Linked DNA regions of Homo sapiens: region 2 is linked to region 1. Evidence: fine-mapped expression QTL. Tissue or cell type: left ventricle. Region 1 holds a variant in brackets; the other region holds the start of a gene. All regions are shown on one strand. Distances are from middle to middle.

Region 1 (2,918 bases):
CTATCAGGTACTATGCTTATAACCTGGGTGACGAAATAATATGTACATCAAACCCCAGGACATGCAATTTATCTTTAGAACCAACTTGCACAAACAAACCTGTACCCCTGAAGTCAAAATAAAAGTTAAAAAAAAAATCAATGCATAGTTGAACATCACAATCCTCTCATAAGCATTCTGTTGCCTCCTTTATTTCTGTATGTGGATTATAATTTTCTGTTTCTTTGCATGTCTTATAATTTTTATTGAAAGCTCAACATGTGTGATAATACATTGTAGCAACTCTGAATATTGACTTCTCATCCTAAACCTGAAGCTTGTTGTTTGCTTTTTAATTTTTGAGTGACTTTGTTGGAATATTTTAGTAAAATTTATTTTCTCCCACAATATGCAGCCTCTGTTGTCATTCCTCAGAGGATGTAGCCTTGGCATGTCCACAGTTAACAGGGATAACACGGACTTTAGCAGGGCTCATTTTGCTCCATTCCCTGGTTTCTCTGTTAAGCTGTCCACCTCTGTTGGTATCACACTGAGATGTTAGCTTCCATTCATTGCTGGTGTAATGCCCCATTGTTTTCATCAATGCACTAGGGCATAAATTGCTCCACAGTTTAACCCAAGTAAATTGACTCCTTTGCAGAGCTAAGCTTTGAGCCCAATCTTTCAAGTTTGTTCCAATCCCAAAAGAACTCTTTTTATTTTATGTTATTTATTTTATTTATTTATTTATTTTTTGGAGACGGAGTCTCGCTCTGTCGCCCAGGCTGGAGTGCAGTGGCGCTATCTTGGCTCACTGCAAGCTCCGCCTCCCCGGTTCAAGCGAGAATCCATGTTTTTAAACACCAGGCGAAATTGCCTGCCCAGTAGTTACCTGCAAGGTGTTCCAGTATCCCCTTCTGGGATAACTAGAAATGGAAGGCCAGGAGCTGTTAATAGATCAGAAGTAGTAGACTAAAGATTGACAAAGGACTATGTTTTTTTGTTTTTTTGGTTTTTTTTTTTTTTTTTTTTTTGAGACGGAGTCTTGCTCAGTCGCCCAGGCTGGAGTGCAGTGGCGCAATCTCGGCTCACTGCAAGCTCCGCCTCCCGGGTTCACGCCATTCTCCTGCCTCAGCCTCCCTAGTAGTTGGGACTACAGGCGCCCGCCACCACGCCCCGCTAATTTTTTGTATTTTTAGTAGAGACAGGGTTTCACCGTGTTAGCTGGGATGGTCTCGATCTCCTGACCTCGTGATCCGCCCACATCGGCCTCCCAAAGTGCTGGGATTACAGGCGTGAGCCACCGCGCCTGGCCCAAAAGAACTCTTTTTAACTGTGTCTTTACCGGGTTGTCTTTGGTAAACTTCTAGCTGGTTTACAGTTTAGTTTGCTGCTCTCATGGAGCTACTAGCCTCCTCTTAATTGCTTATCCCCAATCACCATTGTTTTCAGAGCGTCCCTAATCTTAAACTTCCCCACACTATGTTCTATTCCAAATAAATTCAGTTCTCTTTCCGAGAGCTTCAGAGTTTTCTACTCTCTGCCTGCACAAAATCTCAGTGCTAATGCTAAGAGCAAGGACAGTCACTTAATTCTTTTGGAGTGACGCCCTGTTTTAAAATT[G/A]GGGCACAAAGCAGGGGTGGTAATTTCTGGTGTTTACAACTTGTGCCTCCTGGCATGGGACCTCTATCCATGCTCCAACTGAGGCAAAGGTAATTGAGGTCCTGTTATTCCTAGCCTGCTGCACGTGGGATAGAACTTTTGCTTTATGCTTGGGGCTGGATGAAAACAAGATTCAGGCCTGAAAAATAGAGCTCTAGCAACATGGAGTTGGGAATTGGAGAGGATGAGAAATGTTAGCAGCTTTCTCCCCCCAGAAAGGTACTATAGTTCTTGACTGGAAGCTGGACGTAGAAAGAGCTCTGTGTTCTTGGCTGTATCCATTCAGAGTAGAGCTTCTGTCACACTAAACAGAGAGGTGGTGAAAGGAGTGGGTGGTGGTTCCAATACAACTGACTTGCCATTTTTACTGGCTTTAGTATATTTTATTGAATTAATACGATTTCATTTGCTGTATGCCCTTAGGACAATTTCTTAACACTTGGAAACATTTTTAACATATAATTTTCATCAACCATTGAAATCAATTGTTATTTCACTAGGGAACAGGTTCATGGAATTCTTCGCAACATCATTCTGAAAGTAATCTAGTCATCACAATTTTTTAAATGCAAGTAGAATTATTTACAAGTTTGCCAAATTGTTCACAATATCTTAGAAAAAAACCCATAGATACAATTTTCAAATAAAATCTTCCAATTGAGATAGTTAAGATCTCTTTTATAATATTGTGAAATCTTCTAATTGAAGTGAGTCCTCATCTTATTTAAGTTTATAAAATGTTTACTATATTGTAACTGACTTAGCAAATATTAGAACAACCTGCTCGTTCTGAATATTAGTTTTTAGCAAGTGTCTTAGTCCATTTGTGCTGCTGTAACAAAATATCTGGGTAATTTATAAACAACAGAAATTTATTTATCACAGTACTGGAGGTTGAGAAGTCTAAGGTCAAGGCACTGGCAGGCTTGGTCTCTATTGAGGACTCCCTGCTTCCAAGATGGTGCCTCGTTACTGTGCCCTCTGGAGGGGATAAATGCTGTGTCCTCACACAGAAGAAGGCAGAAGGGCAAAAGGGCAAAAAGGGCCAAGCCCTGTGTGAAGCCTCTTTTATGAAGGCCTTAATCCTATTCATATTCAACATGGATTTTGGAGAAATACAAACAAGCCATGGCAGCAATATATACCTTTTTTTGTTTTATAAACAGATAAGAATAATTTTGATCATTAATTCACCTAATGAAGAGGTAATTTTCTTATATAATTGTACTTTGATATGCAATAATTATCAATATTTGTAATGTAATTGTTGTTTTAAT
Region 2 (2,918 bases), 29 kb after region 1:
TGAGTTGATCCTGTGCCTCTCCCCTGATGAGGATTTGTGTTTCTGCCAGAAGCTTTGCTCCAGGTACTGATGAAACCAAAGTTTTGGAAATAGAAAGTGCTTCCTGAGAGATGACTAGCTTTGCAACTACTATTCAAAGAATAAGTAGAGTGTGTTTTAGAAGATGAGTATTTCCCACAAATGACAGAATGTTGGACTTAAAAGGTTCTGTGGCAGTTTGGGAGGTGACAGTTGATAGTTGTGAAAGTTGTTGTCTCTGAGATTCGTGAAACACGCCGCTTTTTAGAATGCCTCTGAAAGAACAAAGAAGTCACTGGCACTCGACTATAATATGCTAAAAAGTTTCTGGTTCCAACAGCACACAGCCAGCATCAGGTGTTTTCTTTTTTGATAAATGCAGGCGGGGTGTGATGTGGGAGAACATTTTGTGTTTTCCTGTGAGAAAAAGATAGTAGAAAAGAAAGTAAACACTTTGAAATGGCAAATCTCTTTCTTCCTCCCTCCCCTCTGAATCCAGTAATCAAAAAACTGTGAACTTTTTTTAAATTTTATTTTTTTTCACTGTCAGTATTCAATATAACTGTGAACTTTTTAAAGGAAGATGTTTTATTCTTTGAGAACCCCCTTACTAGTTAGATACCTCTAAGTGAGATATAGTTGTTTAATTTTTCCAAGGGCTAAGTCAGTAACATGCTGGACAGTTGAGTACATGCAGATAAGACAAAGAAATGAGACCTGGGCCTAGTCCAAGCCCATAAAGGATGGCAGTAAAGTCAAAATTCCCCTACAACTTCAGGCTAGGAACTACTACATTCAATGAGATGGAAAGGCTACTATTCCTAAATATTTAGTATTTATTTTATTTAGTCATTGTCCATCTTATCACTTACCCTCAAAATATTCTTTTGAGCAGTAAGTTAAGGCTGTTTTTAGCTCGCAGTTGATTGACTACCATTACTCAAGCCATTTGGGCTGTTGGAGCTCACCTTTAATTAAACAAGATTCTTATGAAAAACTTGAGAATGAAATCTGGTTGTAGGTATTCCTGTACTTTTGGATTAGTCTAAGGCTGAAATTTCGCACTCACTCCGAAAAGAACATCAGAATCATTTCGACCATGCTATGCTGCACAATAAGGAGTAGTTCAAACGACAACTTTTTTTGATCCCAGGTGTTTTATTATAGGGTTTTCTGATAGTCTTACCGGAAAGGAAGTTTTCATTCTGCTTGGGAATCTGGGGATGTCTCTAGCCATTTCTAAACTTCTACAGTGCTTCCCCCACGAACTAAAGATAACAGGCAAGCAGTTTCCATTGGAACTGTGTTAAATCGACATCTGAAATGTTCATTGCTTATAATTTGATCTTATTTAATTTCCCAAAAAATCATTAGTTACTAGGTATTGCTAAGTACCCACGTTCGGGAAACGCATCTTTTTTTTTTTTTTTTCACGGTTATTAAAACCGAGGGTGGGGGGCGGAGGACGCACGTGGGAACCCACCAGGCGCCTCAGCTTCTGCACTACAACTCCCAGAAGGCGCCGCGGCCAGGAAGCCGCTTCTGGACGGGCGTTCCCGCCCCTCGCTGGGCTTGGTAGTTGGGGCGCAGCCGCGGTGGCTGGGCGCGGAGTGTGCGTGGCCTGAGCCGTGCGGGTGACTGCTTCAGGGCTTCTCCGCGACTGGACCGGGCGCCGCTCGAAAGCACGCCCTCCATTCGCACTGCTTGTTGGGCTCATCATGAAGCGCTTGGGCTCCGTGCAGCGGAAAATGCCGTGTGTGTTTGTGACGGAGGTGAAAGAGGAGCCTTCCTCCAAAAGGGAGCATCAGGTACGGAGGAGCGCCGGGCAGGCTTGGCGGCCCGCGTGGGCTCCTCCCCGCGGCGCTGGCTCAGTGCGAACCCGGCGAGGGCGGCTGGGCGCTTTAGAACTGCCCTGCAGGCCAGGAACCTCTGTAGGTTTCCCTGGGGAGGTCTGGGGTGGGAGTTCCGTACGCCCTGAGCTCCAGGTTCTTGTACTTTTCTTAGTTGTGAGGGAGGGAATTTGCGAAAGAATTTTCCTTATCAGGAGATTCAAACTTGTCCTCGCAAGGAAATGGATAACTCACATCCACAGCATGTCCCTTCCTTTTCAGGTCAGCACCTTTTGGGGAAACCCCCTAATCAGGTAATTGCCACAGTCCAAGCTTTACTACTTTTCAAGAGTGCAGTAAGAAAGGGTGGATATTAGAAGACTTGCTTTACCTGTTCTGTCCGAACCAGTGGCGGTGTTGACAGTAGCCTAATTAGGTCACTGAAGTTCACACCTCATATTACCAGTAATTACTTAATTTATTCTAACTTTGGTGTTCTCAAGGTTTTCTGTTGCAGCAACGTGTTTTCCATAGTGTGCCCTCGGTAAATGCTAGTGAGTAACCTATATTTGGGTAATTTTTTCATATTGTACTATAAAACGTTGTAGTCTTTGATCAGTAGAATCCCCAGTGATTAGTTGGGTGCTTCCCAACTTTGCTGATTTCAAACAAAACCAACATGTCCATTGGAAATCCACCTCACTTGAGTTTCATCATTGGCACTGGCTTTCTCGTCTTCTGGACTAAAACTTGTTTAAGGCAAAGATTGCCCTGTTATCTTTAGTCCCAGCTTCTAGGACCTGGCACGTGGTAGGCACTGGATAAATATTTGTTGAATTAAAGAATGAACCCTGGAATCATTTCATGCCAGTTTTCCATTCACCTTGATGCTTTTTACCTTATAGCATCTGATCTTTTCCTGCTTTCTAGTGCTGTCACAGCTGTTACAGTTAATATTTCATGTCCTGCTCATTGCACCACCTAACTGGTCTTACTTGCCACTCAGACTGATCATCACCATGTTCTTTCCTCGTCAGAATACCACAGTTATTACTCAATGTTTGTAGCAGT

Evidence for each region. PIP is the estimated chance that this variant, and not a neighbour inherited with it, causes the effect. A credible set is the group of variants that fine-mapping cannot tell apart.
Region 2: it holds the start of RLIG1, and the variant in region 1 is the best candidate, but not a certain one, in a credible set for the expression of RLIG1 in left ventricle (GTEx, PIP 0.65).

What each region holds. Positions count from the first base shown.
Region 1 is chr12:88,004,922-88,007,839 of GRCh38, forward strand. All of the region lies in intron 3 of C12orf50 (chromosome 12 open reading frame 50), which reads right to left. Among named protein-coding and RNA genes, the nearest start is that of C12orf50, 23 kb to the right of the region's middle. The variant G/A (reference allele first, on the strand shown) is at 1,603.
Region 2 is chr12:88,033,913-88,036,830 of GRCh38, forward strand. It overlaps RLIG1 (RNA 5'-phosphate and 3'-OH ligase 1), which reads left to right and starts at 1,624. Exons shown (of 7, transcript NM_001009894.3): 1 at 1,624-1,826. The coding sequence starts at 1,737. LOC107984542 (a long non-coding RNA gene) reads right to left here and starts at 1,584. Exons shown (of 3, transcript XR_007063395.1): 1 at 1,502-1,584; 2 at 1-435.